Linked DNA regions of Homo sapiens: region 2 is linked to region 1. A link means that fine-mapping ties the variant in region 1 to the expression of a gene that starts in the linked region. Tissue or cell type: lung. Region 1 holds a variant in brackets; the other region holds the start of a gene. All regions are shown on one strand. Distances are from middle to middle.

Region 1 (5,000 bases):
ATGCATGTGGGCGGACTGGTCAGAAGGACCTCTTACCGGGAGCAGAGCAATAGGCCCAGAGGGAAGAAATCTCTGCCAGGCTACGTTGTTTTCTGTGGCCTGCAACAGAGAGGAGAAAAGTTTCTCTGTGAAGTACCTAGTGCCTATGAATAAAGTCCCCAGATGGCAGCTCAGGATCTTACCTCTGATAAATGCAGAGTAGCCACAACAGCAGACTGGTCATAGTTCCAGCTCACATTCTGGATTCCAACAGCCTGCCGTACTCCGGAGTTGTGACCATCTGCACCTATCTGCATGGACACATGAGCCTGCTAAGTCTTCCAGCCTCTTCATAAACTGCTTCAGAAGTTTTTCTCTGCTCCCTAAAGTTTCCTCCAGCTCTGATTGTTGTGTGGCAGGATAATTCCATCAGGCCTGCTTCACTCACAGCCCCTAGAGGTGGAGCCCCTGCACTGTCACATCAGCCTCAGCCAACAGAGCCAAAGCTGGACATGACTGAACAGGTGCCAGCCATGAGTTAAACTCAGCCAGGCCCTCCTGATATTTGAACTAGAGAGCAATAAGGAAAGTTTCAGTATGGGGCACACACTGGAGCTGAATAGTTCTGATGTAGGGTTAGGAATGGCTACCATGCAAAAAGGGAAGCTTGTGAGCAGAAAGGAGAAAAATGAGAGGCAAGAGATCAATGACCACAGACTCCTCAGAGGGAAAGAACAGCCTCCATTCCCAACACTCTGGTGCCTGTCCTGTGAGGCCCAGCTATCTGTTATTTCACAACCTAAGACGGCCCATGAGATTGCTCCCTGTACAGGATTTACGATGAGACCATCTCCACTTGAGCTGGCCTGAATAGGTACTGGTCCTCATAACCAAAAGTTTTGCCTAAAATTAAACTATAGCTTAAATCGAAAACCAGAGTCCCTAGAATCTAGGATAAGATGTAGATATACAAGACCCCTAGCAAAATAAGAATCTTCAACTACCAACAATTTGGTCTGGAAGGTGCTGCCATCACCTAGGGTAATATGAACCCAAGGGCTGGAGTCGGCCATAGGAAATGGACAAGGCCAGGTATAGCGAATGGCTTTGCTCCTGTAGAGAACCGTCACTCGGTCTGGGGAGGTCAAAAGAGAGGAAAAAAAATTAGAAAGGTGGGCCACATAGGCTGAGGAAAAAGCCATAACTAAACCTAAAGCAAGGTCCCAGGACAGCAGTGTCTTGTCATTTAAGATTAAAAAAATCAGTAATTAATGCTGTGGTCTGAGCTAATAAATGACAGAAGCCACAGAGATAACTCAATGTCAAAAAAAGACATTGAAGTTCTCAGTGAACTCTGTCAGAGGCACTCTTTCTTACTGTCCACATGCTTCTGCGCCTCCATTTTCACTCTACGCTTAAATGAGCCCGTGTTTGCTTTTACAGTAGACAGGCTGGGAATACCATAGGCTGAAACAAATCCTAGACTACAAAAGATTTTCTTCCAGCTGGAAATCATTTTATTTTTCTGGTCATAAAAACAATACGCTCTATGGCCAGGCACGGGTGGCTCATGCTCGTAATCCTAGAACTTAGGGAGGCTGAGGCAGGAGGATCACTTGAGCCCAGGAGTTCAAGACCAGCCTGAGCAACATGGTAAAACCCCATCTTTACAAAAAATTAACCAGGCGTGATGGTGCGCACCTGTCGTCCCAGTTAGTCAGGAGGCTGAGGTGAGAGGATTGTTAAGCCACTGCACCCCAGCCAAGGAGGACAAAGCAAGACCTTGTCTCAAAACAAAACAAAACACTATCTCCAAAAACATCAGCCTGTATACATCATTTACAGCTTTTTGTATGTCAGTCAGTCATACTGTCAACAAAGCGATTTAAATAATAGAGGGCCAGCACAGTGGCTTACGCCTGTAATCCCAGCACTTTGGGAGGCCGAGGTGGGTGGATCACGAGGTCAGGAGATTGAGACCACGGTGAAACCCCATCTCTACTAAAAATACAAATAATTAGCTGGGCACGGTGGCAGGCGCCTATAGTCCCAGCTACTCCAGAGGCTGAGGCAGGAGAATGGTGTGAACCTGGGAGGCCGAGCTTGCAGTGAGCCGAGACTGTGCCACTGCACTCCAGCCTGGGCGACAGAGCGAGACTCCATCTCCAAAAAAAAAAAAA[T/A]AATAATAATAATAATAAGCTCGCTGTAGAAGTCTGGACAACAAAGAAAGGTTCAAGTGGAGAAAAATCACCCTTAAACTACTCAGAGACAACTGCAATTACAGCTTTGGTGTATGACTTTCCAGACAATTTCCTATGCATGTACATGCACACACAAGTGTGATCATATGACCCAATATATTATGGAACAAATTTATAAGTTATTAAATTTTAGATTCAAATTATCTTTAAAAGCTACATCATGGTTCACTGCATGAACTACTATCCAATATCAAAAAGCATTTAAGTTACTTCCAATTTTTCTCTCTCTAGAACATTAAGATATTTGCAAGCCGCATAACTGATAAATTTATATTTAAAATATATAAAGAACTCCTATAACTCAAAAACAAATAATCCAATTTAAAAACAGGCAAAATATTTTGAACAGACATTTCTCCAAAGTGGATACACAAATGGCCAGTAAGGACATGAAAAGATACTCAGCATCATTAGTTATTAAGGAAATGCAACCACTACTACAATGAGATACAACTTCACTCTCAACAGGATGGCTACAGTTTTTTTTTACAGAAGGAAAATAAGCGTTGGTGAGGATGTGGAGAAACTGGAACCCTTATAGACTGGTGGGAAAGTGAAATTGTATAGCCTCTTCAGAAAAGTTTGGCAGCTTCTGAAAATATTAAACATAGAATTATTATATGACCCAGCAATTCCACTTCTAAGTATCCAGCACCGTGAAATAATCATCAGAGGAATTTTTTTTTTTTTTTTGAGACGGAGTCTTGCTCTGTCGCCCAGGCTGGAGTGCAGTGGCGTGATCTCGGCTCACTGCAAGCTCCACCTCCTGGGTTCACGCCATTCTCCTGCCTCAGCCTCCCAAGTAGCTGGGTCTATAGGCGCCCGCCACCATGCCTGGCTAATTGTTTCTTTGTATTTTTAGTAGAGACAGGGTTTCACCATGTTAGCCAGGATGGTCTCCATCTCCTGACCTCGTGATCCGCCCGCCTTAGCCTCCAAAAGTGCTGGGATTACAGGCGTGAGCCACCGCACCCGGCCATCAGAGGATTTCTTTATGGTGGACACTGAATATTGTAAAAGAGATCCTTTCTTCCAGTAAGTCCTAAGCAGTTCACTTCCCAATGAATGCAAGGTGGAAGATGGGGGCCTCACCAGACACAGCCTCCAACTGCTTAGTGAGAGCATGCATGATGACATCATTCTCCACGATATAGCCCATGTCATCTAAATTATCCTTATCAAACATTATCAGGGCCTCTGAGCAGGCGTCCCACACCTGGAAACACAAAAGGAAAGTCTGCATTAAAACCAAGAGGGAAACATCACTCCAATCAGAAACAATATTGCTTTCCCAAGTGACAGAGCAGAAAATCACAATTTGTCAGCCTCTCTGGTAGGAAAATATAAAATGAGAAGAAAATTCTCCTGGGAATGCTTCTCCCCACTTCCTCGGACTGAATGTGAACCTTGTCTGATTCCTCCTACATTCACAGAACACTTGGAGAAAGTGGACTCCGATATCTTAAGACAGACCAAGACATCTTGACAAAATTGAAAAGATAAAGGGGCACCTGCATTCGCCGAAAGGCTCTGTATCTCATGTTGCAGATATGGTCCCAGGCACCAAAACCTACAAAAGAAAGGATCTATAGACCAGAGTGACTTCACAAGGACCTGGGCTCCCCCTTGTCCCTCCATCCTGTTACGTAAGAGGTTGTTTTCAGTGTTCTTCAATAATACTCTCCACTTCTATCTTGTTTGATGTTAGTACCTAAGCTACTCTGTTCCCCAGTTCCAGGTTGTATAGCATGAAAAAAGACCCAGCTTCTGCCGGGCGCGGTGGCTCATGCCTGTAATCCCAGCACTTTGGGAGACTGAGGCGGGCGGATCACGAGATCAGGAGATAGAGACCATCCTGGCTAACACCGTGAAACCTCATCTTCACTAAAAAATACAAAAAATCAGCTGGGCGTGGTGGCGGGCGCCTGTAGTCCCAGCTACTTGGAGAGGCTGAGGCAGGAGAATGGCCTGAACCCGGGAGGCGGAGCTTGCAGTGAGCCGAGATCGTGCCACTGCACTCCAGCCTGGGCAACAGAGCGAGACTCCGTCTCAAAAAAAAAAAAAAATAAAATAAAAAAAAAAAAGACTCAGCTTCCATGATCAAAAGGTCAAATCACATAAAGTAGGGGAAATTAAAAACGAAAACCAAATCCATGTATTTTTTTTTTTTTTTTTTTGAGACGGAATCTCGCTCTGTAGCCCAGGCTGGAGTGCAGTGGCGGGATCTCGGCTCACTGCAAGCTCCGCCTCCCGGGTTCACCCTATTCTCCTGTCTCAGCCTCCCCAGCAGCTGGGACTACAGGCATCCGCCGCCATGCCCGGCTCATTTTTTTGTATTTTTAGTAGAGACAGGGTTTCACCGTGTTAGCCAGGATGATCTCGATCGCCTGACCCTGTGATCCGCCTGCCTCAGCCTCCCAAAGTGCTGAGATTACAGGCGTGAGCCACCGCACCCGGCCCCAAATCCATATTGTTCTTTTTCTTCATCATCCTGCTGAAGTTATAAACCTCGTAAAGACAATTTTTAAAAAATTATTTTTACAAAGGATTTCTAGTAACTTGAAACCATTTGTTTTTTCTTTTTCAAGATACAAGGTCTTGGTATGTTGCCCAGGCTAGACTTAAACTCCTGGGCTCAAGCAATCCTCCCATCTCAGCCTTCCAAGTGGCCAGGACTATAGGTACACATGACTGTGCCTGGCCTATGTTCTATTTTTTAGCTCTTCATAGCACTGAACAGATTTATTCATTGAGGAAATA
Region 2 (5,194 bases), 62 kb before region 1:
TGTTAGCCAGGATGGTGTTTTTGTTTTGTTTTGTTTTGGGCTAGGTCTTGGACAAAAAGTCAAGTCACTAGGGCAAATACGTTAAATAGTTTATCAGCTGGTGCCACAGTTCACCGGACTTTTTTTTTTTTTTTGAAACAAGATCTTGCTCTGTCATCCAGGCTGTAGTGCAGTAGCACCATCACAGCTCACTGCAGCCTCAACCTCCCAGGCCCAAACGATCCTCCACCTCAGCCTCCTAAGTAACTGTGACTACAGGCATGAGTTAGCATGCCCAACTAATTTTTAATAAAAATTTTTGTAGAGACAGGGTCTTCCTATGTTGTTCAGGCTGGTCTTGAACTCCTGGGCTCAAGTGATCTTCCCCTGCTCAGCCTCCCAAAGTGCTGGGCATGAGCCACGATGCCCCACCCACCGGGCTTTAAGGATGCCTGAGAAACCATAATCATTTATATAGAGGTGGAGAGGAAAAAGGATGGATTCAAAGATTAAAGTGGTAAAGGAAGAGATTTTTCTAAATATTTATTGTATAAGCATTAACAAAACACTCCCCCTTATATATGGTAGGTACCATGATATATAAATATGTACATATTTAAGAATATTTCACCTGTATTTGAATTCTAAATATTTTCACACATATGTACATGTGGACCTTTCTATACTGCCACCCTCCACATCCACTTTCCTACCTCTGGTTCTCAGTCCTCTTCCACAGAGGTAATGGGTTTGCAGTGGAGAGAACCAAAGTCCCACTTTCACCTTTTGTTCTCTTCAAATTAAGGCCAGCTCCATTCCCAACCCCTCAGCCTGTTATAGCTGTTGATGTCCCTTTCTGGCATGATTTAGGCACTAGTGATACACTGTCTCACTACGACCATCCAGGTATCAGGTCTGAGTGGCTCGAAGTACTTGATGCGACAGGGCATGGTGGCTCACGGCTGTCATCCCAGCACTTTGGGAGGCCGAGGCGGGTGGATCACCTGAAGTCAGGAGTTCGAGACCAGCCTGGCCAACATGGTGAAACCCTGTCTCCACTAAAAATAAAAAAATTAGCTGGGCGTGGTGACGGGTGCCTGTAATCACAGCTACTCGGGAGGCTGAGGCAGGAGAATTGGTTGAACCCAGAAGGCAGAGGTTGCAGTGAGCTGAGATCGTGCCATTGCACTCCGGCTTGGGCAACAAGAGCAAAACTTGGTGTCAAGAAAAAAAAAAAAGTACTTGATGCAAGAAATTAGACACTCTAATAGGACCACTGATACTCACTGTAGAAACAAAGCCAGGTTTCTCAAACAATGGGTCATGGAAAATCCAAGGAATAAGGTCTCTTACCCTTAGTGTTCCTCATTGTTCAAATGTGTACTGTAGAAGCATGGTCAAAATCTGAAAACATATGTTAGTGAGTTCTAGGAATGTGATAAGCCCTTGGCACTTTAAGGGCTAGACTAACTGTGCAGTTATGTAAAAACAAAAAAAAAATACCATAAAAGAATACTTACATTAACAAATGGGAAGAAAAAAGCCACATATAAGTATGTACATTGGGCTATCGTTTTATTAAAAAAGAATACTCCAAAATATAGTAGTGTTTATTTTTGGATAATGAGACTACAGGTGATTTTTGTTTTTTCTTTTGGTACTTCCCATGTTTCCCAAACTTTCTGTATTGAGCATGAATTACTCTCTTAAGTTACTTTACAAACATCTCAAGTTTGGTGCCAACTCTGTGTTCCCATATATGGTGTTGTTGCTGGACACCACGTATGACTCCAACGTGTCCAGAAACCACCGGGGTCCCCCAATAGGGCTAGTAGCAATCTAGCAGCAACTCCAGGCCTGTAAGGGGTTAGTGCTAGAACATTACCCACCTCAGTGGCTCTGATCAGTTTGGGAAAACCTCAATAATTATCCAACTTGGTAAAATACTTTAGGTGTCCCCTTTGAACCAAAAGAGATCTCTGAAAAGGCCCAAGGAACTACTTTATACATCCTCTACACGTTTAAGATAATCTGAACACATAGTAGAGATCTGCCAGACTATGGACATGGGAGCTGTAATCCTCACAAGCCGGGAGAGCCGGGGAGAGGGTCCGAGTGGGCCGGCGCGGGGGGCGCCAGGTTGCCAGCCCCAGACCCGAAATCCCAGGCAGGCCCAGGGAGAGGGGACTCTCGGGTGGCTTCTCCTTACTTCGTGTCTTTGCCTTTGCTCTTGCCTTTCTTTTTGTCCTTTCCCTTCGACGGCATCTTGGCTTCCCCAGGGGCTCCGCTGTCGTAGTTGCCCAGCCGCGGCCGCCCTGGCCAGCTCTGTCTCCAAGGGAACCGGGACGCCGAGCTGGCAATGCCCCACCCGCGCCGCTGACGGCGCGCGGAGAGCGCACGCGCCCGTGACGTAGCCCAGGCGCCGCGGCGCGCGGGGTGGGGCGGAGGTCGCGCCGAGGGCGGCGGGCTGCCGCGCAAGGGTGGCGCGCGCGCGGTGAGTGTGCGAGTGTCGGCGGCGCCGGATCCTCTACGTGGGGCCCGGGCTCTGCGGGCGGGAGGCGGGAGCTGGCAGCCCCAGGCGGTAGCGCTTCGTCCTGCGGCCTGGGTGTGTCAGGAGTCGCTGCGGTCGGGGCGCCCTTGCCTCAGGAGACTTAGATCCCCGCTGATCCGCCCGTCCCGCCGCAGTGGTCTGAGCCGCAGCCCTTTCCCGTGCCGCCCGCGGGTCCCGTTCCTCCCGTGTCTCCATGCCGCAGCCAGCGTGGCCGCGGCTACCTTGCCCTCGCCCCCGCTCCGCTTCTGCCGCTCCCGGCACTGCCTTACTCCTTTGGGTTGCATCTCTTTCCTGGCTTTTCACCCTTGCTGATTCTGTAAGGGATAGTGCAGCCAGCGGACGTCCCAGGCCAAATGTTTTTTGATAGGCAGTCGAGGACTTTCCCGAGGGCGGTGGTTGAGGGCGAGGCTGCCAGCCTCCGAAGAGCAGCGGCACGCCAGGGAGCCGGGCGGGGAGGGGAGTGCTGCCACCGAGGTCGGGAGCAGGGTCCTCGGCCTCACTAGGTCCTGTGTGGCCGATACTTCCTGCCCACGACCGCCCCCCGGATTTCCATTTGCTAATACCGGTCCGCAGCCTTCTTTCCTGAAAGTTGCATAAAGTTGGAAGCTCTTCAACTTGCCTCCCCGACTCCTGAAATCCCGAATACACCTCTGAAAAGGAGTGTACTCACAAGTATTCTCATTTTTCAATGAGAGTCAGTCAGTGAGTCATTAAGGAAGGTACGGTATTCTGAGTGCCAAGCCAATAGTTAGGAGACTTGTGGTTGAAGCTCTGCTCTGTTATACTCCATTTCAAATTAAAAAGTTTATTTTAAATGTGGTTGTAGATCCTTCGTCACCATTTCTCTAGGGAGGACTTAATCCGTACACTCCTTCCCGATGTCTTTGACCTCTAATTACTCCCCTCCGCCTTGTTTCCCACTTGCATAGTTTCTGTTTCTGAATTTCTGTTTCTTCTGAGGGAACATGCCGATTTGGTAATGATAAGCCTTGTAAACTTTTTTTTTTTTTTTTCTGAGAGAGAGTCTTCTGTCACCCAGGCTGGAGTGCAGTGGGGCATCTCGGCTCCCTGCAACCTCCACCTCCTTGGTTCAAGCGATTCTCCTGCCTCAGCCTCCCCAGTAAGTGGGACTACAGGTGCATGCCACCACACCCGGCTAATTTTTGTATTTTTGGTAGAGATGGAGTTTCACCATGCTGGCCAGGCTGGTCTCGAACTCCTGGCCTCAGGTGATCCACCTGCCTCGGCCTCCCAAAGTGTTGAGATTACAGGCGTGGGCCACCGCCCCGGCTGTAAACCTTTTTTTTGAGACAAGAGTTTTGCTCTTGTTGCCTAGGCTGGAGTGCAATGGCGCAATCTCGGCTCACCACAACCTCTGCCTCCCGGGTTCAAGCAATTCTCCTGCCTCAGCCTCCCCAGTAACAGACTATAGGTGCGTGCCACCATGCCAGGCTAATTTTTGTATTTTTGGTAGAGACAGAGTTTCACCATGCTAGCCAGGCTGGTCTTGAACTCCTGGCCTCAGGTGATCCACCCGCCTTGGTCTCCCAAAGTGTTGAGATTTACAGGCATGAGCCACCGCCCCCGGCTGTAAAATTTTTTTTTTTTTTTTTTGAGACAGAGTTTTGCTCTTGTTGCCCAGGCTGGAGTGCAATGGCACGATCTCGGCTCACCGCAACCTCCACCTCCCAGTTCAAGCGATTCTCCTGCCTCAGCCTCCCGAGTAGCTGGGATTACAGGCACACACCACCATCCCTGGCTAATTTTGTATTTTTAGTAGAGACAGGGTTTCTCCATGTTGGTCAGGCTGGCGTAAACCTTATTATACATACCATCTGCCAGCATGATCATGGCTTTTTCTTTTCTTTTTTTTTGAGATGGAGTTTCGCTCTTGTTTCCCAGGCTGGAGTGCAATAGCACGATCTCGGCCCACCGCAGCCTCCACCTCCCAGGTTCAAGCAATTCTCCTGCCTCAGCCTCCCGAGTAGCTGGGAATCCAGGCATGCGCCACCATGCCCGGCTACTTTTGTAATTTTAGTAGACACGGGGTTTCTCCATTTTGGTCAGGCTAGTCTCGAACTTCCAACCTCAGGTGATCCGCCCGCCTCGGCCTACCAAAGTACTGGGATTACAGGCGTGAGCCACCACGCCTGGCCGATCATAGCTTTTTCTGAGTGTATTTCTGGTATACTTTCACACTCCCGTGAGTCCATAGGCGGAATCGCCATATATTGAAGAGTTTATCTCTGATGTAAAATCTATAAAGTTACCATTAATTTTGTATGTGTAAGGTTCTGAAAAAGCACACTGTTGATAAGCTGCAGAAAAGAGAGTAGGGCATCTTCTGTCACAGGCTGTATATTTGGAATTTATTCTAGAAATTGGTAACTTTATAATATGAAAGTCAGTCCAAGACTCCTCATTTGAACATAGGCTTACAGATTAATGTATGAACATAAAAATTTGACTATAACAAGATTATTAATGTATGCGTAGTACCTTAGTTATAGTACTTTATAGTTTCTTTTATTGGTTTTTGGGTTTTTTGATGGTTTTTTTGAGATAGGGTCTTACTCTTAACCATGCTGGAGTACAGTGGCAGGATCATGGCTCATTACAGCTTCGACCTCCTGGACTTAAGTGATCCTCCCACCTCAGCCTCTG

Evidence for each region. PIP is the estimated chance that this variant, and not a neighbour inherited with it, causes the effect.
Region 2: ENTPD5 starts here. The variant in region 1 is fine-mapped to the expression of ENTPD5 in lung (TOPMed, PIP 0.92).

Annotation. Positions count from the first base shown.
Region 1 is chr14:73,954,261-73,959,260 of GRCh38, reverse strand. It overlaps COQ6 (coenzyme Q6, monooxygenase), which reads right to left. Exons shown (of 12, transcript NM_182476.3): 3 at 3,752-3,810; 4 at 3,333-3,456; 5 at 984-1,114; 6 at 183-290; 7 at 37-99. It also overlaps a transcript of ENTPD5 not described here. Among named protein-coding and RNA genes, the nearest start is that of COQ6, 6.5 kb to the right of the region's middle. The variant T/A (reference allele first, on the strand shown) is at 2,160.
Region 2 is chr14:74,016,529-74,021,722 of GRCh38, reverse strand. It overlaps ENTPD5 (ectonucleoside triphosphate diphosphohydrolase 5 (inactive)), which reads left to right and starts at 2,435. Exons shown (of 16, transcript NM_001249.5): 1 at 2,435-2,473. It overlaps BBOF1 (basal body orientation factor 1), which reads right to left and starts at 2,374. Exons shown (of 12, transcript NM_025057.3): 1 at 2,189-2,374. The coding sequence starts at 2,244. RefSeq lists silencers at 2,258-2,507, 2,538-2,607, 2,618-2,757, 2,798-2,867, 2,783-3,077.